Linked DNA regions of Homo sapiens: regions 1 and 3 are each linked to region 2. Evidence: fine-mapped expression QTL. A gene starts in region 2. Each other region holds a variant in brackets. All regions are shown on one strand. Distances are between the middles of the regions. Region 1 overlaps KDM4C (lysine demethylase 4C). Region 2 holds the start of KDM4C (lysine demethylase 4C). Region 3 overlaps KDM4C (lysine demethylase 4C).

Evidence for each region. PIP is the estimated chance that this variant, and not a neighbour inherited with it, causes the effect.
Region 1: its variant is fine-mapped to the expression of KDM4C in whole blood (TOPMed, PIP above 0.99).
Region 3: its variant is fine-mapped to the expression of KDM4C in T cells (TOPMed, PIP 0.90).

Annotation. Positions count from the first base shown.
Region 1 is chr9:6,976,142-6,987,002 of GRCh38, reverse strand. KDM4C (lysine demethylase 4C) reads right to left here. Exons shown (of 22, transcript NM_015061.6): 9 at 5,885-6,078; 10 at 2,599-2,837; 11 at 337-659. Among named protein-coding and RNA genes, the nearest start is that of KDM4C, 220 kb to the right of the region's middle. The variant T/G (reference allele first, on the strand shown) is at 5,177.
Region 2 is chr9:6,751,909-6,762,769 of GRCh38, reverse strand. KDM4C (lysine demethylase 4C) reads right to left here and starts at 4,797. Exons shown (of 22, transcript NM_015061.6): 1 at 4,567-4,797. RefSeq lists enhancers at 763-1,445, 3,484-3,703, 4,904-5,263, 5,995-6,706 and silencers at 4,364-4,533, 4,624-4,863.
Region 3 is chr9:7,169,183-7,180,043 of GRCh38, reverse strand. KDM4C (lysine demethylase 4C) reads right to left here. Exons shown (of 22, transcript NM_015061.6): 21 at 10,154-10,246; 22 at 4,396-5,491. The coding sequence ends at 5,315. Among named protein-coding and RNA genes, the nearest start is that of KDM4C, 420 kb to the right of the region's middle. The variant C/A (reference allele first, on the strand shown) is at 5,611.

The DNA.
Region 1 (10,861 bases), 220 kb before region 2:
CTGAGTAAAGGGTACAAAGAATCACTGTGCACTATTTCCCACAACTGCATACGAGTCTACAATTACCTCAAAGTAAAGAGTTTAATTTTTTAACAAAAAAAAGAAAATCAAGCATCGACACGTGGCCATAAGCTCCATGTGCTAAATTATCACTATGTGAGCCACAGCTCACAGGAGGCTTACCTCCCAGTTATTGAATGAATATGATTAAGACCCATAAATGTAAAATGTTATTTATCTGTGCCCTAAAGGAGGATTTCAGTGCACAGCATGTTGTTTTCAAAATGTGCTCTCACCATATAATGAATATGGTAAAAAATGGATATTGCCACATACACTGGGGACTTTGAAGCTATTTCTCTCTCCACTGGGGACCGCTGGGATTTCCCCAGGTTCAAGGCCATTCCCATGGCTCTCCACATCACTCTCTTCTCCCTCTGTTAACACACCATTACTCTCTGCCACTGATGAGCATGACTCAGGTGACTTTGGCCATGAAAGCTCGGATGGGTCTGATTTCTCGGGCTTCTCATAGCCACTAGACAATGGAATGGAATCATCAGCCTCACTGGATATAGAAGGTACACTTCTATATGCATAAGCTTTGTCATCCTCAGTTTTTATGTCTTCTGTTACAGATGTACTTAAGCAGCTGTTTCCTGAGGATAAAACAGAAGACTGTTAATAAATCATGCACTGTATTACTACTAAGTAGAATTGGTAAACTATTCCCAAATGATTCTGTATCTTACACACACATACACACGCATGCGCATGCACATACATGCACACACACAAAACAAACCTCATTTGTACCCATCACATACTAGCTCTGATACTGAACAACCCAGTTCTTCTACTCAAGTATTATGCCAGGGCTCAAAATCTGGAGATCAATGTGCAAAGAACCATGTAGTGACAGAACTAATGAAATTCAGGGCCCTTAGGCAAAACCATCCAGCAATTCATAAACTGGCTAATTAAACACAGTGTAAGAGAAAGCATGATGAGGAGCCGGGCACGGTGGCTCACGTGTGTAATCCCAGCACTTTGGGAGGCCAAGGCAGGTGGATCACTTGAGGCCAGAAGTTCAAGATCAGCCTGGCCAACACGGCGAAACCCCAGCTCTACTAAAAATATAAAAATTAGTTAGGCATAGTGGTGCACACCTTTAGTCCCAGATACTCAGGAGGCTGAGGCAAAAAAATCGCTTGAACCTGAGAGGCAGAGGTTGCAGGGAGCTATGATTGTGCCACGGCACTCCAGCCTGGGCGACAGAGAGAGACTCTGTCTCAAAAAAAATTTAAAAATTTTAAAAAAAGGGACTATAGTGAAATATCCATATGTATTGCCTAACTCTCTATTCTGCATTTGTTGTAATTCCCTTCCCTACCTTCTCTGCCTTGCTATCTTATATCCATTCATCAAAACTCAATTCAGATATCACCTTTGCCAAGAAACCTTGGCTATCCAGCTCTTGTGTGTTTGAAGTCCTTCCTTGGTAAACCAGCAACATCCTATGCAATCTCTATAATGCTACTTACCACATTGGATTGTAATTATGTGGTTATTTGCCTAGCTCTCCACTAAAACATGAACTCATTTTTTAAAAGTTCTGTGGTTTAAACTCTATCCACACAGCTATTTCAAGAGCAAAGGCAATGAGGCTGGAGTAGCAGCTGAGGACCAGTTTAGGACTATGTGAAGACTTTTTCTTTTATTATAGGTGGAATAATACTAAGAAGAAGGTAGTCACAAGACCTAAGCTTTTTTTCTTTTAAAGGATCACTCTAATGGCCACCTGGAGAACTGACTAGCGGGGGTGACTACAGCTGACATTCCTGAATAAGAAGGAAGCAATTGCTGCAGTCATCCAGGCAACAGCTATGGTGCCATGAGTGAGGAGGAAGCAGCAGAGGGAGTCGGATTCTGGCGGAGGGGGGAATCCCATGAGGAAGGATTTACAGGATGAGAAGTATGAGAGGAACACAGGAATTAGCTTATTACAATACAAAAACTCCAACAAATATGAAAGAGGCAAATCACTAAAGCAGTTTCAGAAAAATATGCTACCAAAGGGAGAAAAGGCAAAGTAGCTGAGATTTTCAGACAATGGCTTTAGTACAAAAGAGAAGCAAGGGGACTATACATGTCATTTCACTAGGTTGACTTTTCATTATTGTTGTTCTTAAAACCTTGATCTTTATTTTCTTCTTAAGTCGAAAGCTAAGAATCTACAAAGAATTATCTATAATTGGTTTTCTCTACTCATGTGAATTCAAAAGAAGCCTTCCAAAAACGTATATTGTAAATTGAGTTGCACGAAAAAAAAAAAACTCATTTTAGAATCTTCTTTTTTATTAAACCAAATAGGCACTGCTGACTGCTTGTCTCACAATTCTGCTACACATAGCAGTGAGGCTCCTGACTTTTACAATATTCCCTGGGACTATTGGTTGAGTTACCCATGACTTTGGTAGATTACTGATTAAGCTATGTGGACTAGTCAGATACTTGTCATAGTGAACATCCATTTAAGACATCTGATCATCAACCACCTACTACTTATATGTGAAACCTAATCAACCATCTTCTCACCTGAGAGTTTGATATGATCTGATAAATTCTGCTCCACCTGCATCCTGCTAGCAGATGACTCTTCTTCTGAAGATGCTTCTGTGTTCCTCAGCTTCACTGCTGCTTCTGACTTTTCACTGACCTTGAGGTCATCTGTGACTGAGTCGGGGTTAGGGACCTCTGCCCCATCGACTTCATCTGACACTTCCTCTTCCTCATCAGCCTTAGGCCTTTTAGAGGTAGACCTAGCACACTGGAAGCTGTCAACAAGAGAAGCAGTGGTCAGAGCGGGATGTCTGCAATGGATATGAAAAACACATCCCAATATAAATGTCATTTTCACTTGCTTAAAGAAGGAAACAACTGACATTGTTAATCACTATGCCAAGTCAATGTTCACAACTGAATGATTAAATTTGAAATCAAAATCTTAAACACAATTTTCTTATCAATCAATAAAACTTTAAAATTCACACAACTGTAAATAATTATTAAACATTATTTTGAAAAAGGGCCATTCCTAAAATTTTGTGACAACATTTTAAAAGTCTGAAAATAAAAATAAAGTAAAAAATGTTGAAATGAGACAGAAATAAAATCAATAAATAAAATATTTAGAAAATGAAGAAAATAAATAAAAATCAGAATATCCTGTTAGGCTAGTGCTAAAAGTAAATTTTTTATATTTCAAGGTAAACTACTGACTACTTTTCATTGAGTTTTGTATAATTGTCAGGTATGTATGAAAATAGTTCAAATTAAATGCCAATTCATCAATAGCGAAAGGATTTAAAACAGACACAGGCTAACTGGTGTGTGTGTGTGTGTGTGTGTGTGTGTGTGTGTGTGTGTCATAAAGACACTGTCTCACTATATTGTCCCGGGTGGTCTAGAACTCCTGGCCTCAAGTGATCCTCCCCCACTGCCTCCCAAAGTGCTGGGATAACAGGCATGAGCCACCACATTCAGCCTAATTTTATGTATTTAACATCGTACATCAACATACTATTTTCAGAGTGAACACAATTTTTATCTTCTTCCTGAGTATTTTCCAGCAGGTCACTTGATAGCTTTGGCATATATGCTTTTTACATATGAAACAAACATTCCTAACAATTAGGAACAATTACAAATCAACTCAAAGCAACAGTGTCCAAAACACACCCATATGTATTATACACACACAAGAAACCACCACAGGACTAAGCACTGTAGGAAGTCAGGGAGGGCAGAGAATAGGGTGGCCTGCGATAACCTATATAAATTAGCTTTCACTGCTACTGATGGCAGTAACTGCAGTAGTATGATCATCACCATCATTGCTTTTGTTGCAAATCCATGCATTGGCTGATGTGGGAAAATCTCAACATTATAAACAGTGTAGTATATGTGAAAAAAAGAAGGCTGACATGTGCTTGAGACATCAATGAATCATTCCCTTCATCAGACTTCCCTAAATGGGCTATTTCCAAAGGGAGATCAATAATCTCTAAATATCAAGCCACAAGGCTGAGCATATTAAACAAGCCCATAGTCAGGCTTTCTAAGTAGGTGAGCAAGTTCCATTGATTATTTGAACCTACTGACAAGCATTTTGATCTGTTCAAGTGTCATAAATCCATGTTCTCTATCAACCCAAAAGGCCCACTGTGGTTAATACCTGGAAACCAAGTCATACACCTAATGAAAATATTGTGTTTTCCATCCATGACAGAACAATGCTCAAGATGTTCTCCTGGTGTGTATTCTGAACTCAGGATTGGATACTGCCTCCTTCCAGCGCTGGCTTCTTTAGTGCTGTGAATTAACACAGTTATCAAAGACACTGACTGTCCAAATTAGTATTTCTCAAACTTTTCTTGAATGTAACCCACAGTGAGTTATATATTTCAGATAGTGACACTATATACACACATACACACATACTCACACATGTCATGAGTGAATATTTGCCCTTACCACAGAGGAAGCACTATAATACTTTTTATTCTATTTTACCACCTCATTTTAAAATGTTGGTCCTGACCTACTAACAAACACTTTGACGATCATTGCGGTAAACTACAGGGGGAAATATCAACACCTGAGTTAGTTCTGCACCTCAGGTCTACCTCTTATAAGATGCCGAAGTTTGACTCCATGTTCCTAAGGTTCTTCCACTCACTACCACTCTAAATAAGCAGAAAATAAATATCAGGGAAAAAAAAAAGACAGAAAATAAGCATCATAAGTCTGGGCAAAGATGTAAAATTATGGTGTTACTTAGTTAATATCAAAAAAGTGGACACAAGCTACAGGGGATTAAATACATGCAGGCATTAAAAATCATGTTGCAGCAAATCAATCAGTTACATGAAAAAAACACTCAAAACTGATTGTCAGATTATTAACAGAGCATGGCCCCAATTTTGGAAAGATATATAATATTATAAAATATATAATAAATATATAGGTAAAGGATATATACAAAATGTTAATACTGGTTATCTCTGGATAGTGAGGTTATGAGTGATATGGGATTCCTTCATTATTCTTTTCCTTATTTTACAAATTTCCTCCAATGCACAAATATTACTTTTATAATCTGAAAGAAAAACAA[T/G]GAGTAATATTGAAGAGGAAAATTTAACATAAAATTGGAAAACATAAGACCCTTAAAAGGTAGCCTAAGGACCTGAGCAACACCACACACACCCTATTCAATAGGTTTTAAAACAACAAGATGCCCACAGCACATCTAAAAGCTTTTGAAATGATCCTGGCCACAAAGATGGAATGGAGAATAAAGTTCACAAGGATAAGCATGTTACAGAAATGCTATATGCTGTGTTTTACATCTTACAAAAGAATAAAACCATGTGCATAAAATGTAGTAAAATATAAGCATCCAGAAGAGAGCAGTAGCTCAGATGTTGGACAAATGAAGAAGATAACCACTAAAGCCAAAAAGCAAAATGGTGGCAAAATGAAAAAGTGGAAAATCAAGTTATTGATTAAAATATGGAAATGCACAGAAAGGAATAATACAACCATAAAACACATTCATGTAAGTGGTCTAACAAGTTCTATATTGTTCTATTTGCCATGTCGAGCAACTTCAGGAATATTCTCAAACAAAATAAATATACATCTCTTCCTATATTGTATTTATTACACACCTAAGAATTAAAAATAATGTCTCACATTTTCAGAAAGGTATTAAGTTATGATGAATAAATAGAAAAAGCAAGTAAATTGCCACATCCAATGACCCATTTTAACTGAGAAAACACGACAGGCAAGGCAGGTCAGTGGGGTGAGGGGTCATTACCTTCGGGATGCTTTTCTTACTTTCCTCCTCCTCTGCAGCCATGCTTTTACTTCAGGGGTGGATGCTGGAGTAGGCTTCGTGTGATCAATGGTGTATATATCCTTTCCTTGTTTCCAAAGCTGATATCTGTCTGGCTGAAATTTCCTCACAAAGATATCCATTGAAATCTTCACCATGTCTTTCCTGCAAGTGCACTGAAACACAACCGGGTTGGAGAGTGTTAAACGTTTCGCTAACTATACAGTAACACAGAGTTGGTCCTTGAACACATCATCCATGAATACTTAGTCACTACATAATGGAGGATAATGCATTACATTATCAAACATTCAATGGGTGATAAACCCAATTTCTTCTGAATAGAGATGAGAATCTATATATTCACATTTATAATGTGGTTATAATGGTTTGTGGACCTCACAGGGAACTATGTACTAAGAAAAACTAAAAGGAAAGAGTGCTCATTTGGAAGCACGCCTGCAATGGAAAGATTATTTGCCCATCACAATGATGTGTCAATGAACTGAGCGCTAAAAGGTCTGTAAAGCTGAAAACCTGGGTTGTCAACAAATAAAATAACCCAATGAATGTGTGATTAGAATACTTTAACCAGTGAGTTGAGATAAATTTACTCTAAGATATATTTTATTATATTTATGGTTATTAACGAACTCTCATAAGGTAACCCAAAATTAGGAGCAAATGAACAGCCTTTTCTACATCACATCACATACAACATCCAATACCATCAACAACAACAACAAACATATCCACTAAAATGAAGACATGGGGTAAAGGTGAGAAGTTCAAAGAAAAAATTATTTTGAATCTACTATGCCTTTAATTCTCATGAATACATAGTTATCAGTCACATCTTATTAAGCAAGTTTTCTATAAAGACTTCACACAAAGTTTTATCAGGTCTAGGCCAGCACTACGCAACAGGGAAGTTATCATTCAAATGGTGGTGCATAAATAATCTCCAAGATTTAACTGATAGACCTTGACAATCCCTAACATACCCGGTAACAGACTGACTGAACAGTTTTGACACAATAAGACTTTAGATATCTTGGTGATACAATTATCACCTCCATGCAAATTAACTCCAAAGTCTTAATATATCCAAACCCAAACTCCCACCACAGAGTTCTCATCCTAATGGCCATTACATTCAAAATACCTAAAATTAATGTCTTCAACTTCAAACCACACTCTGTCGCTACCAAATGATACCACAGTTCTTCTATTCTCCTACATACATAGTCCACATTCCTAGACACTCCCTATGTCTTCACCCCTAAAAATTCAGCCTTGTCTCCATTTACGGCATCTCCTGTCTCAATTCCTTCTGCCAGCATCCTTGCAGCTGCACTGCCAGGCCTTGAATCCTAGCATAACAAGGCTAATTTCCCTGCCTGTAGTCTCTCCTAACAATAATCCATCGTTATAGCTGTTACTTTCGTCTCCCCCAAATCTCTTACAATCTTTCATTCCTGAGTTCAATAAGGTGTAATCACCCTGCTTTTCTTAGACCTAGAATAAGGTCTAAATTTATGAGCCTGGCATTAAGGGCTCCAAGACTTTACTCCACCAATGAGATTTTCAGGTTTCTCTCCCACAGCAAGTCAACATGTATATTCCTCTTCAACCCAAGTCATGGGAGCCCAAATGCCCCTTATGCTTCATTTACTTCAGTATTTTCCTCCTACCACACCACCTTCCTGCATACTAGCCGGCTATCCAGCAAAACTTCATCCTCGGCTCTGAATATAAATTGTCCCAACTGTTCCTCTGAACCTAATACTATTTATCTGCACCACTGCTTTCTATTATTGGTTACATATAATGAGGTTTCTAAGTTACCTTGCATAATTATCTTGCCATTGGAATAAAGAAAATGAAGATCCTGAGAAATTGAAAGATATTTTGGATTAAGATGTAATCTTTTGACAAAAGGGGGAAAAAAGCTTGGACTTACAACCAGAAACTTTCTTAAAGTGTTACTAATATTGCTTCACAAAGAAAAATAAACAGTGAACAAAAGTGATGCTCCCCACTTTAATGAGCTGATTTAGGCCTGATCATGATTACAATTGCAACATCCCTAGGGCAGATAAGCTGGTGAGGTACAGAACACTATTTCTGAGGAAAGTGTCTCAGAAAAAAAAACCTTTGACCTTATTAATATTCATCTTGTTTGCTCAGATGATGCTATGAAGCCTAAACAGAAACAGCAGATAAGCCATGGTCAAAGAGGAGTGTGCTCCGAGACTGGAGGATGGTACTGCTGGACAAACTTGCTAAACAGATGAAGTATGTGACTCGTGGATCCAATCAACCATGTCAGCAGAAGCCAGGAAGAGAGAATGTGGTTATCCAGGAGAGAGCTGTGCAGGACTGTCTTGCTTGATGCTTGGATGTCCATGAACTACACAGAAGACTGACAAGGATTTTGAGACTTTTATACCAGCAGAAATGCTGCCAGCCTGAACTGAAAGGAACAGAGACAGAAAAAAAGAAAGGAATGACTCCAAGGACAAGCCACAGATGCAGAACGACTGAGTGGACAGAACCTCACTGGGCTATTACAACAGCCCTAACAAACTACCCTTCAGGAGGTACAGAAACATGCCACCATGTGTCGTAAGATTTGTTACTTGAGGATTAAATCAACCAGAAAACCCACCTATACTAAATTTTTCTAAATAACCTAAACCCACCAACAATTACAATCTCAGTAATGGTATAAAAGATAATATAAAAAGATTACACCTTTAAAGTTTATTTGGAATTATTATGCAATGGAAGATGTGAAAAAGATTACATCATATCAATTTGCTGAGAAACTGTAAGACCCACAATGCAAATAGTGTTTAAAAGACTAAATTCAAACCCCAGCTTCAACACTGACAAGCTATGAAATCTTGAACAGCTTGTTTAACCTCTCTGTGCCTCAGTTTCTCCATCTGAAAAACTGAGAGTAACAGTGGTAACTATCCTCATGGGGCTGACAATAGAATTAAACTTTTTGTTCTTGTAGAATGTTGCTGAAAATGCTAGATAAGTGCCTATTTTTAAAAGGCCGAATATGGCTTATACAAATTGCTTTTTGGTAACCTGACCACAAGAACATTGAGGTTTCTAGTGTTATCTTATTTTGCCTTACTGAAAAAGTGGAAGCAACAAAAGAAATAAGAATCAGAATACTGCATCTAACAAATGGTCTTAAGGGTCAAGGGGAAGTAAGTGCATAGTGGTTCTGAAGAATCAAACAGGAGGAGCAATCCCAGACTTGTGGGGGATTGAAAAAACCCTAGAGGACTGGGCCATTGTCACAGGAGAGGTGACAGCAGTGTACATCAAGCTCCTGTTTGGATCATATGTTGCAACCAGACTCAACTCCATGGCTTCACATCTAGAGCAAACAACTGAAACTGGAGGCCCAGCAGATGACAGGCATTAATGAAAGGAAATGTCCATAACATGAATTAATACTGCCCAGGTGTCCAAGGTAGGATGCTGTAAAGTAAAATAAGATGGAGGCAGGGGTTCGACTTATGTGACTTCTTCATTCTCCACTGTATTTAAAAAACAAAATAGGCCTCCTTTTAACATAAGAGCTTGGTATTACATGGCAACATGTATGTGGTTTTGGGAGACATGAAATAATATCCACTTGAATCTCAGGATTGAAGAATAACTTTCAGAACATACTGGGAAAAAGTTGATTTCTTGCTTACATAAAATAAAACTCTAGTGAATTTCGAACATATCATATTATAACCTAAAGAGGATAATATTTAAAATTTAAAAAGAATTACTGTCTTTCATAGAAAATTACTAATTTTCCAACAATTATGAAAAGAACCCAATGTAGAAGATCAATTAGATTTTTGAACAGGACAATCATAAAGAAGGGAGGAGCCGATGGCAAACTCTTATTTTGAAGATTTAAATATGTCCAAATGACACGAGGCACATGGCTATAACCTGTAGTCCCAGAACTTTGGGAGGCCGAGGCAGGTGGATGGCTTGATCCCAGGAGTTCTAGACCAGCCTGGGAAACATGTCAAAACCCCGTTTCTACCAAAAATACAAAAATTAATCTCATAATCCAGTCTCAAAACAAATAAGCCCAAATGAAACACAAATTGTTGTCTTCTGGTGATGCCTGAGTAGATATCATATCTCTAGACCTATGCTGTCCTATCTTATCCTTTAGATCTAAAATACTGCCCTTTACAGTAGCCACCAAAAATGTATTTACCGATAAAAATGACTTATGCCAAAAAAAAAATCAAACAACATATTTATTGCTATTTCCTTAAGAAATGGGAATGGATAATTTAAAAAGCAAAAGTTAGTTTTAAACACCCTAAATTTTTAAATCAAACTCTAGCCTCTCCTTTCCCAAAAATGTTATTGCTCTTGAAGGCTATCAGCTAATTATCTTTGAGGCACAATCAAATCACATTAGATCAGAACTACAGCATGAAAAAGGCATCTGTTCTATATTCTATCCAACACAAAGCGAAAGTGCCTAACATCCCCCAATATATAAGGTATAAAAACATGGGACTGTGTATAAAACTTTAAAATGCAAAATGTTCAATGGCTTTAAGAACCCAACAGTTTATATGTTATTAATACAAATTGCCCTCTGAATAGTACTATATATATAATATTATGGACAAATGGAAGACATTCTATATCTCATTGTTTTCTAATAACCCTAATGTTAGTGAAGACAGTAAGAATTAAGAATCTATTATTAACAGTTATTTCTAACTTGTATTATGACTTCATAATTCATAATTGCTCATTATTTCTATAGTAAGAAGTAACAAAGCACTGCTAAGTGTTAGCATCAAAGTAACCTCTTATTTAACCAAGAATATGTCTGGTGGTGGTAACTAACAGGGCCAAAATCATTAATTAGGCCTGACACATAATTTTATTCTAACTCCTCAGACT
Region 2 (10,861 bases):
GGAGAATCGCTTGAACCCAGGAGGTGGAGGTTGCAGTGAGCCAAAATCACACCACTGCACTCCAGCCTGGGCAACAAGGGCGAGACTCCATCTTAAAAAAAAAAAAAGACAATGACCTAATATATTATATTATATATTATATAATATAAAGACAATGACCTAATATATATTGTATTTATATTATAAAATTATATTTTAGGCTCCACAAAATGGTCTACATTTGTAGCGATAAAAAAGATACTGTGACTTTAATTATGATACACCTCCTAAGAAATTCATAACAGAAATAGAGCTTGCAGGCCAAGCACAGTGGCTCACACCTGTAATCCCAGAACTGTGGGAGGCCAAGTCAGAAGGATCACTTGAGCCCAGAATTTTGAGACTAGCCTGAGCAACACACTGAGACCCCATCTCTACAAACAGAAATTTTTTTAACTGAAAAAGAAAAGAAGGAACAATGAGAACACATGGACACAGGGAGGGGAACATCACACACCAGGGCCTGTTGTGGGGTGGGGGGCTGGGGGAGGGATAGTGTTAGGAGAAATACCTTATGTAAACAACGAGTTGATCAGTGCAGCAAACCAACATGGCACATGTATACCTATGTAACAAACCTGCACGTTGCGCACATGTACCCTAGAACTTAAAGTATAATAAAAACAGAAAAATGGGCAGGCATGATGGCTCACACCTGTAATCCCAGCACTTTGGGAGGCCGAGGCAGGCGGATCACGAGGTCAGGAGATCGAGACCATCCTGGCCAACACGGTGAAACCCCGTCTCTACTAAAAATACGAAAAAAATTAGTTGGGCGTGCCTGTAATCCCAGCTACTCGGGAGGCTGAGGAGGAGAATCACTCCAGGGAGTCGGAGGTTGCAGTGAGCCGAGATCATGCCACTGCACTCCAGCCTGGGCGACAGAGGGAGACTCCATCTCAAAAAGAAAAAGAAAAAAGAGACAGAGGTTGGGAGAGAAGCATTAAATACTAATATTTAACAAAAGGGAACACACATTTTTCAGTAGATATTGAGCTTAATCAAAGTACAGAATGTACCTATCTTATCACTAAATATAGAGCAAATAAGTGAATATCAAGGGAATAACCATGAGCAGTATAAAGACTGTGCTAACAGGAAGGGATGATCAGGCCAGGTGCAGTGGCTCACGCCTGTCATCCTAGCACTTTGGGAGGCTGGGGCAAGCGGACTGCTTGAGCCCGGGAGTTTCAGACCAGCCGGGGTACCATGGCAAGACCACAAAAATCAGCCAGGCATGATGGCATGTACCTGTAGTCCCACCTACTTGAGAGGCTGGGGCTGGTGGACTGCCAGAGCACAGCAGACAGAGAGGTTACAGTGAGCTGAGACTGTCACTGCTGCACTCCAGCCTGGGCATCAGAGTTACACCCTGTCTCCAAAAAAAAAAAGAACAGGATGATCTTAATACTGACATCCAGAGGCCGGGCACAGTGGTTCACACCTGTAATCCCAGCACTTTGGGAGTCCAAGGTGGGCGGATCACCTGAGGTCAGGAGTTCGAGACCAGCCTGAACAACATGGTGAAACCCTGTCTCTACAAAAATACAAAAATTAGCCAAGCATGATGGTGGGTGCCTGTAATCCCAGCTACTGGGTTGGCTGAGGCAGGAGAATCGCCTGAACCTGGGAGATAGAGGTTGCAGTGAGCCGAGATCGCGCCATTGGCACAGAGTGAGACTCCATGGACAACAGAGCGAGATTCCGTCTCAAAAAAAAAAAAAAAAAGACATCCAGGAAAGGAAAACACAGCATTAACCATAGAATAAAGCCCCACTTTAGAGAACTGGAGAACTGAAGTTGGCAGTGGAATAGGGAAAGATCAACAGGCCCCTTCAAGGCTTGAAAGAGTATCACCAAGCCAGGCACGGTGGCTCACGCCTGTAATCCCAGCACTTTGGGAGGCTGAGGTGGGCAGATCACGAGGTCAGGAGATCGAGACCATCCTGGCTAACACAGTGAAACCCCATCTCTACTAAAAATAAAAAAAAAATTAGCCAGGCATGGTGGTGGGTGCCTGTAGTCCCAGCTATTCAGGAGGCTGAGGCAGGAGAATGGTGTGAACCCAGGAGGCGGAGCTTGCAGTGAGCAGAGATCGTGCCACTGCACTCCAGCCTGGGCAACAGAGTGAGACTTCGTCTCAAAAAATAAATAAATAAATAAATAAATAAATAAATAAATAAATAAAAAAGAGTATCACCCAAGACTAACTATCCCTCCTTACGCATGCAGTCATTCAACAGATGTTTAACCTAGCAATTACATTATATATATATATATATATACCCAAGAGTAGAGAAAACACGCGTCCACACAAAAACTAGTTCACAAATATTCATAGCATTACTCAGCCAAAAGCAGAGATAACACAAATGTCTACCAACTGATGAATAAACAAAATGTGATGTATCCATAATAGAATATTAGCCATTAAAAGGAATGAAGTACTGATACAGGCTGCAACATGGATGAACCTTAAAAAACATTATGCCAAGTGAAAGAAGTCACTCACAGAAGACCAGATAGTGTATTATTCCATGTATATAAAATGTCCAGAATAGCCAAATCTATTGAGACAGACAGCAGATTAGTGGTTGCCTAGGGACAGAAGGGGATAGAATTGGAGGGAACTAGGCAATGACAGCTAATAGGAACAGAGCTTCTTTTGGGGATTAAAAAAATTCAAAAATTCATTGTGGTGATGGTTGCACAAGACTATTCATTTACTAAAAGCTTTTATTTATTTATTTATTTATTTATTTATTTATATTTTTACTTTTTTTTTTTTTTGAGATGGAGTCTCAGTCTGTCACCCACGCTGGAGTGCAGTGGTGCCATCTCGGCTCACGGCAACCTCCACTTCCAGGATTCAAGTGATTCTCTTGCCTCAGCTGGGATTACAGGCGCCTGCCACCATGCCTGGCTAATTTTTGAATTTTTGGTACAGACGAGGTTTCGCCATTTTGGCCAGGCTGGTCTTGAACTCCTGACCTCAGGTGATACACCCGCCTCGGCCTCCCAAAGTGTTGGGATTACAGGCAGGAGCCACGGCGCCGGGTCTGATTTTCAACTTTAGAAAAGCAACTGACTAAAGTCTGTTAATAAAAAGAAATAAGTCTTCGGTTTAAATTGTACTGTATTACCAAGTTTGCGGGATACTGTAAAGCTTATGTGAAAACTTTTCATAACACTGAAATTGGGAGAAAAAGCACCTAAAAAACCCGAACAACCGTGTAATCCGTTCCAAAACAAACTATGGGCGGGTTGCGCGGAGGCCAGCAAGGTAAGAAAGCAAGCGATAATCGCAAAGCAGAGCCGACTGCTTCCTAATAAAAAATGGACCTTTAAAAATTAAAACCACTAGTTTTCAACCACAACACTTCGAAATGAGAATATTAGTCACCGTTGCCATAGAAACAGTAAAGCCAAGCTGCCCGGAATTTAGACATTTTTTTAAATACCGCAAACTGAAATGGGTGAAAATAGGGCAGAGTTTAGTGTGAACCTAAGTGGCCGGAACCTACTAGTAACTTTCACCAGGATAAAAGTGACTCTGCTTTTCTAACCTACATTTCCGAACAGTGCTTTATAAATCACCTCTCGGGGTTAGTTTATCAAGCGCAAAAAAAAGTTTACCTTGTCTCTTCCGGAAGAAGGAACCTGACAAAACCCCTCCCGGTAGTATTGCCCACAATCAGAGCCAGCCAGCGCAGGCTTGCACCGCGCAGCAAAGGGGGAGCCCAGCATCAAGTCCACGCGGAAAGCATCTGAATCCCGGCTGCTGGCTTTACTGGCGGAGCACAGAGGAAAACCCCAAGCTCCTGCCTACAGCCCCGGCCTGTCTGGCTCCCTCCTCCACGTCCCCACTCCACGCCACGTTCTGTGCCTGGCAGTCCACGCGCCCTAATCCAACTCGCATTTATTTAAGCACCCGCCGTCTACACCGCATCATGGTTCCTCCAGGCACTGCAGGAAGAAATGGCCCCATGCCGGGGGAAAGAAACACCAAAAGGACAGCCGCGAGGGCTGAAGACGACCCCGAATGACGGGATGACTGCCTGCAACGGGTGGTCAGGAGAGGAGCTCCCACCCTCACCCCGCGGGTCGTGACACTCCCAGGGAAGGGAGGGCCCCGAGGGGTGCACCAGGCCCGGCCTTCCTGGAGTCCGCCACAGCCGACTGGCGGCGTTAAGAGGTCCGCATCCCAGGACCGCCCGAGCGCTCCTCTGCCCCAAGGAGGCGACCCCGACTCCGGATCCCGGGAAAACGGCGAGCGCGGGTACCGAACCTCGGTAAGGGCCGGAGCGGGCTGTCACCGGCCCCCGCATCCCTCCCCTGCGGCCGCGGCCGGCCGCTCCCTCCCCAGCTTGACAGTCGCTGCAGTCACGGACGGAGCGTCTCTGCCCCAGCGTCGCCGCTCGCCCGGACGCCCGCACCCCCGTGCCCCACGCGGAGGGGGGCAGTGCCGGGAAGACCTCTCCGGACCCTCCCCCCGCCCTGGCCCCCAGACTCCGGAAAAGCGGTTACCTGGCGCGCGGGTTGGGGCGAGAGCACGACTCGGTGGAGGAGGAAGAGAAGACAGTGGCCTCCGGCCCAGGGAGATTTGGGAAATTTGGGAGACTTGTTCCGCACTAGGTGACAGCTGTTCGCTGCGCACGCGCACAGGACCCCGGCCGCCCGATCACTGCGCCGCGCCTCACCCTCCCGTCGAGGGGGTGGGTGGGAGGCAGCGGCGAAGGCGCGCGCACCGCCGGCTCTCCCTGCGCGAGGGCGCGCGCGCCGTCACGTGACCGCTGGGGCCCGCACTTGGTGAGTCACGTGGGCTTACAAACAGCTTAAAGGTGCCCGGCACGCTCTTGCTTTGGGCTCAACTTCCGCGCTGTGGTTAACTTAGGCTTGCTGGCGCGCATCTTCTTGTCCTTTGGACACAGGCATATCCCATTCTTTCCGGAGGGGAAAGATACTCGCGTAGAAGGAGAAAACAGGTGCACAGAACCTTGCCCGGAAGCGCTGGCTGGGGTCCCGCAGGGCTGGACCTGATGTAGTCCACGCGCCACACGTCCTCCTGGGCGCCGACGCGCACCTATGGCGGCCTCCGACGCGCGGACGTCAGCGTGGCGTTACCGGGGTGGAGCCTCGGAATGTACTGGAGAGCCTGGCGAGAAAGTCGGGGCTCGCAGCTCTCCGGCGATGACAGCGCTGTGTTCCCGTTCTCCCTTCACCCGGTGGCCGGGACCACTGAGCCTCCTTCCCACAATGGGAGATCCCGAATAGGCGAAGAGTATCTTCGTGTCCCAACCCTTTAACAACTACCGCGCAGGAGCGTGTCAGCCTCTGGAAGCAAAACTGTCCGGTGTTGAGTCACCTACACCCAGCACGTCCCGCCCCGACCCGCCCAAGTGTGCTCTTAAGATAGGGAGGCACAAAGGTGACCCCAATAGGAATCCTGGGCTGGCGGTCCCTCAGAAACTAGAGTTGATAACAGTTTGGCCAGAACTGAAGTGACTAGAAATGCAGGTGCCTCCAGCGTCTGAGACTAGATAAGTTAACTTCCTACAACTTGTTGCTTTTCCTCTGTAACTCCGCCTTCCGAGGTGTCAGAAGGAACCAACCAGACCTTAAGCCCCTGTACTGCCAAAGACAGATGGTTGAGCATCAGATGTTTTGCAAAGCTGAATGATTTTTTTTTTAAACTTCCTACAGAGCTCCCAGCTGGGTCCCTTGTGGCGTTTTCTCTAACGTCTTAGCTAAGAAAGATTGGGCATATCTTCACACCAGTGAGCAAAGTTGGGCTAATATGCTGAATTTTCTGTTACATTATACTGATAACAGAATTTTAAAAATATATCGACACCGCTTACCACGCGCTTGAACTCGTTTCTCACTGGGGTGAACATTGTGAGGACAGATGGAATGTGATTAATTGAGCTAAGGCTAACGGGATTATTGGGTCACCATATTTCTTTAGTTGTTAAAAACAAAGTTCCGCTACACACACAGACACACTCTTTTTTGAGACGGAGTCTTGCTGTGTCGCCCAGTTTGGAGTGCAATGGCGCTATCTCGGCTTACTGCAACCTCCGCCTCACGGGTTCGAGAGATTCTCCTGCCTCAGCCTCCCGAGTAGCTGGGATTACAGTCGCCCGCCACCACGCCCAGCTAATTTTTGTATTTTCAGTAGAGACAGGGTTTCGCCATGTTGGCCAGGCTGGTCACAAACTCCTGACCTCAGGTGATCCGCCCGCCTCGGCCTCCCAAAGTGCTGGGATTACAGGCGTGAGCCACTTCACCCGGCCACACACAATTCTGAACTTGGCTAACGTATACTCAACTGGGAATTTTCCAAATGTGTGCATGTAACGTCAGGATCCCAACCATCCTTACAAGTAAATTGGATATGCTAAAATAATAAATATGCAACCTAACACTTACTTAGAACAGTAATGTGAGCTACACACTGTCTTCAGAGCTTCACATGTATTAATAAATACTTATAATAATTCAATGAATAGGTACTATTAATACCTCATTGTTACAGATGTGGAAACTGAAGCATAGCGGTTAAGAAATATGTCCACAATCAAGCAGCTAGGGTCTTTTGGAAGCCATATGCTATATTAGAAATCTTGTGCACCAGAATAAAAAATCTGGAAACCTGAAATCCATTTTCTTCAGAATTTGCAGATGCACAAATAACATTTCTTTACCATTGTGAATTAGAGTATGACTTTTTTTTAACCTGAAGAACTGAAGTGGATATACGAACCTTGCTAACTTCACTGAGCACTTTTTAATTTTAAGGAAGATAATGTAAAATGTCAAAACACTTCAAAAGCTGTAAAGCACTATGTGAATCCATTAAGTGCTTCACAGTCTTGGAAAGTGAAGAGAGCCTACTAGAAAATCAACTGGACTCATGGCACTGAGGGCAGTCTTGTGTCCCTAATGTATCAAAATACCTCCATATTATGAATTATCGTGAAAACATTTTAGCCATATAGTAAATTTTTTATTTAGATTCAATTGTTTAAATCCCAATTGCAATATATTAATGGAAGGCTGTATGAACAATACATAGATTCCCCTTGAAGTTTATATGTAATGTGAACTAACGAACAGATCATCAGATCACCTCAGAGACAATACTTGTTTTTATTTTATTTTATTTATTTGTTTGTTTTTTGAGACAGAGTCTTACTCTGTTGCCCAGGCTGGAGTGCAGTGGCGCCATATCGGCTCACTGCAGCCTTGACCTCCCGGGTTCAAGCAATTCTCGTGCCTTGTGCCTCATTCTCCTGAGCAGCTGGCATTACAGGCATGTGCCATAATGCCCAGCTAATTTTTGCATTTTTTTATAATTGAGACAGAGTCTCACTCTGTTGCCCAGGCTGGAGTGCAGTGGCGCGATCTCAGCTCACTGCAACCTCCGCCTCCTGGGTTCACGGCATTCTGCTGCCTCAGCCTCCCAAGTAGCTGGGACTACAGGCGCGTGCTACCACACCTAGCTAATTTTTTGTATTTTAAGTGGAGACGGGGTTTCACCGTGTTAGCCAGGATAGTCTTGATCTCCTGACCTTGTGATCCACTCACCTTGGCCTCCCAAAGTGCTGGGATTACAAGCGTGAGCCACCATGCCCGGCCTAATTTTTGTATTTTTTGTAGACAGGGTTTCGCCACATTGGCCAGGCGGGTCTCAAACTCCTGAGCTCAAGTGATCTGCTGGCCTCCGCCTCCAAAAGTGCTGAGATTACAGACGTGAGCCACCATGCCTGGCCAATACTTGTAAGTTTCTTAAAATATATATAATGCAGCAAATTTATATGCTGCTTTTTTTTTTTTTTTTTTTTTTTACTTTGAGACAGGATCTTCACACTGTTGCCCAGACTGGAGTGCAGTGGCACTATCACGGCTCAATACAGCCTCCACTTCTAGGATCATGCAGTCCTCCCACCTCAGCCTCCCATGTAGCTGGGACTACAAGCGCACACCACCACACCTGGCTAATTTGTTTATTTCTTTGTAGAGTCAGGGTCTCACTATGTTGCCCAGGCTAGTGTCAAACTCCTGGGCTCAAATGATCCTCCCGCCTCAGCCTCCCAAAGTGGTGAGAATACAGGAGTGAGCCACTGCCCTGGCTGCAAATTGATATACTTCTAAATAATAGTCTAATTTTGAATCTGTTGAAGTACACTACACTTTTTACAAATATAAATAATTGAGCTGGGCACAGTGGCTCATGCCTCTAATCTCAGCACATTGGGAGGCCAAGGCGGGCATATCACCTAAGGTCAGGAGTTCAAGACCAGCCTAGATAACATGGTTAAACCCTGTCTCTACTAAAAATACAAAAATTAGCTGGGCATGGTGGCAGGTGCCTGTAATCCCAGCTACTCGGGAGGCTGAGGCATGAGAATCACTTGAATCCAGGAGGCAGAGGTTGCAGTGAGCTAAGATAGCACCACTGCACTCTAGCCTCGATGACAAGAGCAAAACTCCATCTCAGAAAAAAAAAAGAAAAAGAAAAGAAAACAAAACAAATATACAGAATTGAATGAGGCTGGGCTCGGTAGCTCACGCCTATAATCCCAACACTTTGGGAGGCCGAGGCGGGCGGATCACCTGAGGTCAGGAGATCGAGACCATCCTGGCTAGCACGGTGAAACCCTGTCTCTACTAAAAATACAAAAAATTAGCCAGGCACAGTGGCAGGTGCCTGTAGTCCCAGCTAGTCCAGAGGCTGAGGCAGGAGAATGGCATGAACCCGGGAGGCGGAGCTTGCAGTGAGTCGAGGTCGTGCCACTGCACTCCAGCCTGGGTGACAGAGCAAGACTCCATCTCAAAAAAAAAAAAAAAAAAAAAAAAGAATTCAATGATAGTAATACTTAGTGTTTTTATTTACCTTTACCTTTATCAAATATGTATGTTACTTATACAGGAATAATGAGAGATGATTAGTCCATGAGGGCTCTGCCCTTATTAATGAATTAATGCCGTAACTGCAGGAATGGGTTCATCCTCTTCTCTCTTGTTCTTTGTCCTTCTGCCATGGGATAATGCAGCACAAAGTCCCTCACCTAATACAGCCCCTCAGTCCTGGACTTTCTAGCTTCTAGAACTGCGAGCCGATAAACTTCTGTTCATTATAAATTACCCAGTCTGCCAGGTGAGATGACTCATGCCTGTAATCCCAGCACTCTGGGAGGCTGAGGCAGGAGGATCACTTGAACCCAGGAGTTCAACACCAGCCTAGGCAACATAGCGAGACCCCATCTCAATTAAAAATAATAATAAAAATAAATTACCCAGTCTGTGGTATCCTATTATAGCACCACAAAATAGACCAAGACATGATAGATAAAAGATAGAAGTCAGTGTTTATAGATTTAATAATCATGGAACAAGTCCATTATTTCAGGTAAATGCCTGGTGTGCTTACTCTTAGGCCTGAGTTGGAAGACTTTCAGAAATAAGGGTGGAAGAAAAGTTTTAGATCCATGAAATCCTTATCATTGGAAAGACAGTCCAAACTGACTAAGAAGAGGTAGAAGTTCTGCTCTAGGTGAGCTTATCATGGCCATTCCTGATAAGGATTAGGATTTGTGCCAGAGTCAACCAAACCATCCATTGGGGTAGAAGGAGAGGAACTTCTTGAGATACTGATTAGTATTGTAGTTACATCAGAGCTTAGATCAAAAGCAGCTGCTATTTCTGACTCCTCAGTGGTCCCCTGGAACTAGGGTGAGGCATGGGTTTCAGTCCAAGCACACTTCTTCCATTAATGATCATAGAGTGCCTGGAATATCACAGGACATCTTTCATCACTGAGGGATAAAATGCTCCTCCACCTCAGGCATGAACTTAAAAGATATCTTCATTGAGGAACACAGATATTTTATTGCTATTTTTATAAAGTCTCTGATTATAATAGGAAATAGAGCACTTGGCATATATAAATAAAATTCATATATTAGTTGGAAAGAGACCACAATATAACTTTTTGGAAGTTGCTTTAACAATCCCTGGTTTTAGGCTGAGCGCGGTGGCTTACGTCTGTAATTCCAGGGAAGGCGAGGTGGACGGATCTCCTGAGGTCAGGAGTTTGAGATCAGCCTAACCAACATGGTGAAACTCCGTCTCTACTAAAAATACAAAATTAGCCAGGCATGGTGGTGCATGCCTGTAAACCCAGCTACTCAGGAGGCTGAGGCAGGAGAATCGCTTGAACCCAGGAGGCGGAGATTGCAGTAAGCCGAGATCATGCCATTGCATTCCAGCTTGGGCAACAAGAGCGAAACTCCACCGGAAAAAAAAAAAAAATCCCTGGTTTTGAGAACGTTACCAATTTTTTGTTTTACCTGTTCCTCCTTAATTTTTTTTTTTTTTTTTTTTTTTTTTTTTGAGACGGAGTTTCGCTCTGTCGCCCAGGCTGGAGTGCAGTGGCGCGATCTCGACTCACTGCAAGCTCCGCCTCCCGGGTTCACGCCATTCTCCTGCCTCAGCCTCCCGTGTAGCTGGGACTACAGGCGCGCGCCACCATGCCCGGCTAATTTTTTGTATTTTTAGTAGAGACGGGGTTTCACCGTGTTAGCCAGGATGGTCTCGATCTCCTGACCTCGTGATCCGCCCGTCTCGGCCTCCCAAAGTGCTGGGATTACAGGCGTGAGCCACCGCGCCCGGCCATCCTCCTTAATTTTTAACTCAGGAATGTGACTTGCTTAATCTCTCCAGCAGTAGCTCCTTTGGTATCACAAACAAGAACCTAATTGTCATGGGCTTTCTTCTGCAGAACAAAATGTTGCCTTGTAAGATATTTTCACATTCT
Region 3 (10,861 bases), 420 kb before region 2:
TCTCTCCTCCCAGTGAGTCCCCTCTTGACATCAACTACCTTTCTTATTCAACCCAAAAATGAGTTGAAAGAAACTGTTCTCTTTCCAGCATCTTCAATTCTCTCACACTCTTTTCTTTACATCAAACCCACCTGGATACCCCCTTCTGGAACAATTCTATAATCTGCCTTCTCTGTTCTTATAATCAGGAAATTGGTCTTCTCGGATAAAATCTCCCCTTTCCTGTGTAAAACCTGCAACTCCATCTCTGCTCCTAATCCCTTTCCCTCCCTTTGGGATTTCTCCAGAAATTATTGTTTAGATTCTCCATCTCTGCCCTTCAACTAGATCCTTTCCCTCAGAAATAAATATTTTCTCCTATCAAAAAGAAAAAGTGGCCGGGTGCAGTGGCTCAATCCTGTAATACCAGCACTTTGGGAGGCTGAGGTGGGCGGATCAGTTGAGGTCAGGGGTTCGAGACCAGCCTGGCCAACATGGTGAAACCCTGTCTCTACTAAAATACAAAAATTAGTCAAGCATGGTGGTGCATGCCTGTAGTCCCAGCTACTCGAGAGGCTGAGACAGGAGAATCGCTTGAACCCAGGAGGCAGAGGTTGCAGTGAGCTGATCACACCACTGCACTCCAGCCTGGGCGATAGACCCAGACTCCATCTCAAAACAACAACAACAAAGAAAACAAAAAAAGAAAAAATGAGGACTTCTTGTTCTGGGCTTGTTTCTCCCTGGCTAAGTATAATTTAAAATCCTAGACATAGTACAACAAATAAACTTAAGAGAACTACAAAGTGTTGAAGGAGGAAAGCAGACTAACAAGGACTTCAGGATTTAAGGAATCTGTGTGAACAGGGTTCAGTTCTCTGCGTTTTCCTTTTATCTCCCATATTTCCTGGACTTGGAACCGGAAAATCCTGTAAATGGCAACTACCAACAAGCAAACACAACTTAAAAAGAAAAAAAGCCCTAGGAAAAGTCTATTCTGTCTAGTCAAAGAACAGGGAAAGGCGCAATCTCGCAAAACAAAAACGTTGACAATACTCCTCCTACCCCTATCAAACGCAAGGCATGGCCCCTGCTTCCACAGTGTCAGTAAAGACCAAACAGGAAGTCTGGGATTCCCCTCCACACTTGGTGGCAGCAAGTGACCCAGGACGAGGCTTCCCTCCCCACCTCCCAGCATTGTGTTGCTGGACTGCGTGTGGGGTTCTGCACTCCTTTCTCCCAATTACATAATCTTCCTTGGAGTTGGTAACGTTTTCTTTTTGCTTTGACCACTGCTTCTTCTTGAAACATGCTCTTCCCTTGCTGTCCAGGAAACCATAGCATCCTGGGTTTCCCACCTCACTGAGTTTCTCAGCCCTCACGCACAGGATCCTCTTTTCCTACCCAACTATGTTTTGCCGTTCTCCAGGATTCTGATCTCTGCTCATTTCTTTTTTCATGTGATATGTTTTCTAAGTAGCCTGCCCTCCATTCCCCTAGATTTTTACTTACTTAAAAAAGTCGAAAAAAGAAGAATAAGCCTGGAAAATGGGGAAAAAAAAAAAGTCATGTTCATTGAAGTGTAATTTACATACAGTTCACTCATTTGAGTGTTTTCTATGAATTTTGACAAATATATACAGTCTTGTTACCACCATCATAATCAAGATAAAGAACATCTCCATCACCCCCAAAATGTTCCCTTACATTCTTTGTTGTCATCCCTTCCCCTATCTCGTCCTTGGCAACCACTTGATCTGTTTTCTGTGCCTATAGTTTTGCCTTTGCCAGGAGATAATTTTCCTGTACACTTTTACATCCACCAATAAAGATAATGCCTTCACATTCATATCTCTCATATCTCTAACGTTAACCTTTCTTTTGAGCTTCAGACTCACCTCTCCAATGTCTCTTGTTTGGGTCGGATTTTTTCTTCATGCGTTGAGAAGGTTGAGTGATTCAAAAGTTACTCAACCTCTGTGAGTTTTAGTTTTATTCCATAAAAGAGGGTAATGGTACTTATTTTGCTGATTTACTGGGAAGGTTAAATAAGATGAATGTCACCAAGGAGACTAGAAGACTGGATGTACACAATAGATGCTCAATATATCATTAATATTGGCTGCTTTTGATGAAGTTTCATTTCCTCAAAGGGACCTCAAAGTTGCCCGGGGTTTCTCAGTCATAGGCCCACTTGCTGGAGAGTTCCGGCCTCATCAGAGACTAGAAATCATTCGCCCCACTGGCCAATGCTATGTGTTCCTACAACATGTCGGGTGAGAGGATGTGTAACTCTTCAGATAACTGCTCATCTGAATTCTCAGGAAGACTTTGCAGTACAATTGAGTCTTGCAACCAACCAATTACTTCATGTAATGAGAATGCCTCAGGATCTCTGGTTAGCTTCAAGTTTATGGGGCTGATTTATATCTGAAATGAAGATTGTTTCATTTCAGATTCCTTTTACTTAAAGGCAAAAATAAAGCACAATGTTATCTTGCAGCAGATACTGCTCCAATGATTATTCATAAGGCCTCCAGGGCATTTACAGTAACGTGTGCATGAACGCCCTTGTTTCACAGTGGATAGGTACAAGGAGAGGTGGCAGACTCATTCACTTCTACACAGTTCTGTATTCTCGGTCTCCATGTTTTCACATACTGTGACCCAATAACAATGTGTAATAAATTCTAAGAAGCCATGTGATACTTCAGTGGATGCTTCTTCTCAATTTCTCTCTAGTTGAACTAAAAAAAAAAAAAAAAGTCCTTTAATAAAAGTTAACTGACAAGAATCACATTGTTCTCATTTCAAACACACAAAAAGGAATTAAAATGTTATGAAATATGCCAGGCCGTGTTTACTAATCCCTTAACCTCCAGAGAAAGGGCTTGCAATTAGTGTTACATTAGAATTGTCACAGCTAAGCAATTTTTTTTTAATACTAGAAGGACTTCAGCTGATTTTATGCTACACGTATACACTAAACATGCAGCTAGTGTAACGCAAAAAAATTAAAATCACAATTGAGGTGCCACACAGTAAGTGAAAATGGTTTAACGGTCTGTCTGGTCATAGAGCTAATAACCACTTTATGCAGAATGCAGTGAAACAAAGGTGCCTTTCTCAATAGCCAGAGTGCATTTGTGGCCAGCACTATTTTACTAAGGCCATATACAGCTGTACTTGGTTATAGGCACATATGTTAAGTGAGACTATAAAAAACAGCTGTATTTGAGATCGCATAGACCTCTGCACATTTTCTCCCTGTGGCAGCCAATCAGAAATCTTGCTGACAGGCAAACTTGTACAGAACAAATGATCCTATTTAGATTAATTCCTCTTAATGCCTTAACCAGGCCTACTTTCCTGGCATATTATAGAGAGAGCAGGTCAGTTCCATTCAAAACCTAGAGATAGAAAATTCAAGCTTGATTAGTTGATAAAATATATGACTACACTGGTAGAGAATGTGGAGTGCTTAGTCTCTGTAAAAAGAAGGCTGCTGGGCTCTACCCCAGCTCAGAGTTCAGCCACAAGGTACTCTGGAATATGAGCACCTAGCCAGGGAGCAGTCTAGGGAACTGGGTTTTAGCTGTGGCTCTTTCCTTACTGTTTTGGTCTTCACTCTCTATTCAGGACCAGGATACACCCATACCCTTTGCCATAAAAGTCTGAAATGCCATCCCAGTCCCTGGCTCTGGGCTTTTGCCCATAGGATGTTAACCAGTGCCCCATAGAGGACTGAAATGTGCTTACTTGGCTGGGCTTCCTTGCTCTCCTGCCTCTGCCATTGACATGAGAAGAACATATCCGGGCTGCCCACTGGGTCCACTAGAATGATGGGAGACCCACGGAGCAGGTGTGTGAGCTAGTCCAAGCCAAGGTCAGCACGGCTGTCCAGCCAAGCCCTGCCTAGATGAGAGAAATAAATGCTTTTTGCTGCAGGCCACTAAGATTTTGCAATTTTGCAATTGTTTGCAATGCGGCAAAATGGTGGCCCCAGTTAACTGAAGCAGTCACCAAAACTGCCTGCCCTTGGGCATCCCTTTTCCTGTCTATCCTCCGGGTCTCATTTATACAATGAAGGAGGGACTGGAGGACCTCTAATTCCTACTAATGACAGCTGCGGACCAGGAATCCTGGAACGAAAAGTGATCCAGACTCAAGGGTCTGAGATGTATTCAGGGCCTAGAAGAAGTTGAAGAAAACACTTCCATTGGTACTGAAGTAGGCAGGCAGGGGACTTTGTCTCCAAAAATATCGCCATGCATGTGCCACAACCATGGAAAAAGTCAGCGACAGAAGGAGGGTCTGAAAAACCTGGGCCGCAGTATGTCCTGATAGCCAGCTCTCCAATAAACTTGTTTTTCTACTGGTTTAAACCCAGACAAATAAGCAAGTCAGAGACAGGACTGGAGAAAATGGAAATCTTTATTTTTAAACACTAGTACATTTTCAGGCTGTTTTAAAAAAGAAAAATCATGTTACATTAGTTCAAAACTATGCATCAAAGCATATTTATTTAAACTCTAATTTTACAAACACATAATGAAAGAAACATATATTTTATAAATATCTACTCGGAATATGTATTATGAAAAAAAGTGTTTAAAAATAACAGCCCCAGATCTCCCTCTTTAAATATATAAAATTCGCATAACAATTCATAAGAATTCTTTCTCAAGAGCCAAAAATTTCATTTCACAAAGGCCAACAACTCAGTTCCCATCAGACACAATCAAAAGTAATAGGAATATTCAAAAATGTAAAAGTTCTGTACAAGGGAAATACAGATAGCACACGGGTAAATCTCATTAGCATACATGCCATTTGTGTTTTAAAAATGTTTTATAAAAACTGCAATTTGAAACAAATAAGTGAGAGTCCTTCCCTGACTGTGGAAAATATATAAATTATCGCCCTACCCGCTGGGTACCGAGGTGCCACCTGCTGGAGCTAGAGAGAGAGGTCCCCGTGTGTTTCCTGACAGGGCCCTAAGCCGCACAAGGGGACCCGCCTCCTCTGTGGCAGTGGCTTTTCCTTGTGGGTGATTCACTAGTATTTCCTTTCACTTAGAAAACTTCTTTGGGATCATAGAAGACAACTGCTCACAAGTGAAAGCAAGACTAGAGATGATTTCAGATTGCTGCGTCCAATTCATTGGGTGTATTTTGTATTTTTGGTGACCAAACTCTGGAAACCCGATTTACCACTGTCAGAGACACACCCTGTCACCTATGCCAGCAAAACTCACGGCACAGCCCCAAGGATGTCCCTTCATCTTCTCTCTTCCAACCCAAGCTGCTCTGTGGCCTGCAGCGATGTATGCAGACTACTGTCTCTTCTGGCACTTCTTCTGGAAAGAGCTCTTCAAAAAAGTGCGGTATACAGGGTCGGCCACATATTCATTCTTAAACCTGGAGCTCAGCACTCTTTGTCTCTTTCTCTCCCCTTGGATAATGTCTGCTCCATAAAACGTGTCTTCAAATCGCATGTCAGAGGCTGTGGACTAAAAGCAGCTGGTGTTATATTGCAAAAGGGCACGGCATTTGATCTTCAGAACACTGGACAAAGATCTGACTCGGTCAGCTGGGGTTAGGGTGCAGATGCCCAGGTCACCAGCTCAGG[C/A]TAAAAGGGCCCCAGGCATGGCTTTGGGCTTTCCCTCGCCTCTCCCACCCAAAGTGGGGGGCTCCATTTAGCCCTACTTTCTCCAGGATCTCCCCACCCTCCAACCCCAGGGACCTTCCCCAAACAAAAGCAAGATTAAAGTCTTCTCGTTTTAAACTTCCCTCATTTTTCATCTCCCCTCTGTTTTTGACAAATGTCAACAGTCATCTCTAAGTTACCTTTACTCCTACTTAGCTTTGGGCCTCTGCCCCACCCCTTCCCTGAAACTGTTCTTGCTGAATGAAGTCCTAGTTGCTAATTCCTGTGACACCTTCCTATCCCTAAACTGACTTGACTAGTCTGCCAACTAATTACTGCTTAAAGCTCTCTTCTCTGTCATTTTGTAAACCCACTCTCCTGCTTCTCCTTCTCTGGCTGCTCACTTTTGATGTCTCAGGGGTTCCCTTTCTTAACTATCTGCTCAACTACGATGCCCTAAGGTTTGGCACTGGGCCTTCTCCTCTCCACTCCTGTTCCCTGGGCCTTTGTGCCCACACCCCTGGCTTCAGTGTCTGCAGGAGATGCTCACATCTGCTCCAGCTCAGGCCTGTAAGTGCATTTCCCCAGCAGGCATCACAAAGTCCCTGTCTCAGAGGCCCTTCAAATCAACCTGTCCTAAATTGAACTGAAAGCCTTCCTTCTTCATTGCTGTCCTTCCTACATTCCATAAAAGGCACCACCATGCCCATGCACCCAGTTACATTGGCCAGAAACCTAAAGGCACTGTAGACATTTCCCCACCGTGTCCAGGATTCCTCCTGCATGTACCTTGAAGCCCTTCAGCCTTTCTTCTTGATCCTTACCCTATGGGGCAGGCCCTCACCTCTGCAAAGCACTGCAATAAATGCTGTACCTCCAACCTATTTCCCACAGTACCACTGGAAGAAAGCTCTCTAAAAGCCCTCTTATTATAAGACTCTACATGATCATATGCCCTTGCTTGTAATTTTCCAGCAACCTACTGCCTTCAAGATGACATCCCCACTCCCCAGGCTAGACCTACATAACCTGGCCAGAAGCCTGCCCCGTGCTCTGCTCAGACGGCATCAGTTGCAGGGCCTGGTCATACTTGCCTGGCTCAGGGCCCCATGCTTCTCTGTCTTTGGACACACTGTTTCATTTCTGTGAAAGTTATTCTATTCTACTGTCTCTGCCCTCGGCAAGCTTAAGGGTCCTTCTTTGGGACTCCTGTGGCCCTGACACATCCACTCAGTAAGAGGAGGGCAGTGGTAGAGGTAAGGGGCAAGTAAGTTTCTCCCCATCAGGGGAACCCCATAAAGGTGAGGATATTAGGGACTGTGTACCCAATTTTACATGTGTTCCCCACAGCAAACAATGTGGCTAGTATTTGGCTGCTGTTCAGTAAGTGTTTGCTGAGTGAGGGCATGTGGCTTTTTCTGTGATAATCAGATAAAGCCTAAAGTCTATGGTAGGCACTATTTTTGCTTCCCAATTCCCTACTATCTTGCCTCCTAAAATGCACTGGCAGCTGTTTTCACTGAGGTGGATGACTTCTGATGACATCAACACACAGCACATTTCACTGTGCTGAGACTGCTTCCCCTGGCTGCTGGCAGAGGCAGAGGTGAAAGACACTTTAGGACTTGAAAACACACGGTCCATAGTAAAGAAGAGAAAAACAAGAAAACAGCCACAAGGAAGCCTGAAAACAAAAAATGTACCGAAGCGTAAAGCTGTTCATGTTTCCAGCCAGTTCATGGGACAGTTACTCAGGGTAACAGGCCACCTCCACGGCTTCCCCCACATACCACCTAGTTTCACTAGAGAAGAAAACTAAATCATTATGGGCTGGTTGGGTTCCCTCTGCCATTAGGAGAAAACACTTTTGTTTCATTCATTCTTGGCAAAATACTTCCTCTGAGTAATCTTTCACTTGTGTAAGTGCTAAAGTTATCAAAGAAGAAAATAAAACATCTATGAAAGTGTTGCCACTGTGCAGAAACAGCAAAAGTCGGCCTCTCAAATACAATAATAAAACCGATTTACCAGGAGCTCTAGCTAATTATGCACCGTTGCTATGGTTATTCTGTGAGACAATAAAAGGTAACGGGGCTGCTTCTGAAGTGAGTGGAAAAGAACCCCACACAATCACTGAGGTGGACTGCTGGCTCTTTTGAACAGTTTCTCCCCCAGTCAGCGTGTGTCTGGGTGAGCCGAAGTCATTAAAATACAAGGCCTCCTGACAAGGGCGGCTAACCTCCATCCTTAAAAAACAAAAAAGACTTTTCTAACCATAAAACATCTTCCATCAATGAGTTTTCCAATTAGATTTGTTTTGCCAACTGGAAAAAAAATAGTAATAATCATGGACAGACTAACCAAGGGTCTGAGGGCTATGTACCAACCCAGGGGAGAAACAGGCTGGCTACGACAAGACTGTGTATGTCTTTGATTCAATAAAGGTGGCCAACAGGACTTAGTGACCGTGAGCCTTTGTTCCCTAAGATATTTTCTACTTGGCTTAGCCGCTCAGAATAGCAGGCTGCATTCAGAGTGTATGGATGTGATTTACATATTTTCACTTTTTTTTTAATTAAAAATTTTTTCAGAGAATAAAAAAAAAATTGAATGTTGGTGAGCTTGTTCAGTGAAATAGACCTTAGAAAATCCAGGACCTGTGTTCCGAGACAGCCACAGGGGAAGGCATCCTGGTATCTGAGCGAAATCTACTGTGAAACAAAGAGATTGTGATCAGAGTATGAAAGCAATGAGCTTTCTTCTCATGTGATTAAGAAACAGTATTTGAAATCTACAAGACTCAGCTGGTAGGATGCTTAGTCATACATCGATTAGAAAATGAAAGACCCAAGAGACTTTGAGAGGCTACCTACTCCACTCCCCATCCTCTAAATCTCTAGGTGCTGAAAAAGGAAAAGAAAGGAGCGGGAGGAGCTGGGAATAAGGCAGGGAAGAGGGGAGTCCAAGGAAGACAGGAATACAGAACGAGACGAAGCTATCTCTAACATCTCGAAAAGGAAAGTTTTTCTCAAGAAATTTCAGGTCTCAGAACAGCGACAAGTCATCTAAGGTTTTTCGGTCTTGGTAAGATTTGGCTGGTATCTTTACAACAGGAATATTTAATTTTTTCTTTGCTTGCTGTCATTATCTAGTAGTTACTCTATTTACAGGTGTGTGGGTCCCCTCTGAGCCACATTTCCCATCGAGTGGGCAGCAATACCACCACTCCTCTTGACGATTTCACTTTGAAGGACCTTCCTCTGAAGGATGCAGCTGAGAGGAAAGTCAGTTCCCACCTGATGCAGTTACTCTGCTGTCAGGATCCCATCTGACTGGAAAAAAGCTGCATACACAACTGAACGTTTAAGGCAAGCGTGTCCAACCCATGGCCCGCCGGCTGCATGCTACCCAGGATGGCTTTAACGCGGCCAAACACAAATCTGTAAACTTGCTTAAAACATTATGAGTTTTTTTTTGCTTTTTTTTTTTTTTTTTTTAGTAGCTCATCAGCTATTGTTAGTGTAGTTTATGTGAGGCCAAAGACAATTCTTCTTCTTCAAGTATGGCCCAGGGATGCAAAAAGATTGGACATCCCTGATTTAAGAAAACCCTTGGTTTTTCCAAAATAACCAAATAATCTATAGTGACTCTATCACTGCAGACAAGTATATCATAAGCACTCACTAAACTGAATTATTCAGAAAAAAAATTTCATTTTAGTCAGAAAAACCCCATCCATTCAAATTTCTCTATTTAGGATTTATCATTTCACAGACACAATAGATATAATTCTAAATGAATAAAACTGACTTCATTTCAGGGTCCACTGAATATTTTATGATACAATAATATGAAGTCTAAATTATTGTGAATTATATTTTTCAATGACTGCAGTTTTGAATATTTGTCCATGTTTGTTCATCTTTTAATGGTATGTGAGGGCATGAAACTACTATTTCCTTTTTAAAAAACTGCTTTAGTATTCCCACAACTAGCATTTAGGCTTTGTTTATCCCTTTTATTATGAAAGTCAGAGTTTAGCTTAATGATGAACTGACACAAACATCAGTAACTTTCTGAGACAGAAGGTAGTCAATCCATGAAAAACCTATAAAAGAATAGACAGACATTCAATTATGCCGAGTCCCCTTTGATCTACTCCTGAATACTTTTAATGTTGCTTCTACTAACAAGATTGCAAATGCCTTGATGGTATCTTTGTTTGCTCCTGGTGTTTTACACAGAGCACACATTCAGTAAGTATTTTTGTGCACCAATAAATGTCAACACAAAGAAGCATCATGTGACTTCATTAGAAGAAAAGTAAAGCACATGCATTAATTTCCCCGATTTTGGTTGAATTTGAAGTTTGCATTCAATAGGTTCCACTAAGGAAAATGTTGCATTGGCTTTTTTTAGAATTAATCCAAAAGCCCAAGTATGTTTCCTGCTGGGCTTGGGAAACATGAGGTGAGGACAAGGAATTCACTTGGCAGGTCCCCAAGTGGCATCTGCCAGCACTTACAAATCGAGCTTTCACTCTCTTGGGTAACTCTTCATCTAAAGTGTAGATGTCCTCTCTCTTCATTGCTATCTGGGATCCATCTTCAAACTCAACCTAATGAAAGATAATATAACATGATACATATTAAAAAAACAGCACTGACCATTTTTAAAGGCTCCAATTAACTACATGAAAAGATGAAAAGGACTCAAACAGAACAAACAAGGGAACCAGCCAACAACCAAGGAAGTAAGAAGAGTTATTTCCCTTATTAAGTAGAGGCCGGGCATGGTGGCTCACGCCTGTAATCCCAGCACTTTGGGAGGCTGAGGCAGGCAGATCCCAAGGTCAGGAGATCGAGACCATCCTGGCCAACATGGTGAAACCCTGTCTAACAAAAATACAAAAATTAGCCAGGCATGGTGGCGCATGCCTGTAGTCCCAGCTACTCAGGAGGCTGAGGCAGGAGACCCGCTTGAAGCTGGGAGGCAGAGGTTGTAGTGAGCTGAGATCGCACCACTGCACTCCAGCCTGGTGACAGAGTAAGACTCCGTCTCAAAACAAAAAAATAAATAAATAAACTAAATACAAAATACATTTCAAAACAGGCCAAAATTCTTGGAAATGAGTGTCTTGGAATACAGGATATGAAAACTTTATCTGGCGAAGCAACAACAAAGAAAAGTAGCTGCTGATCAAATGGAAATCACAAAACATGAGACTGTGGGA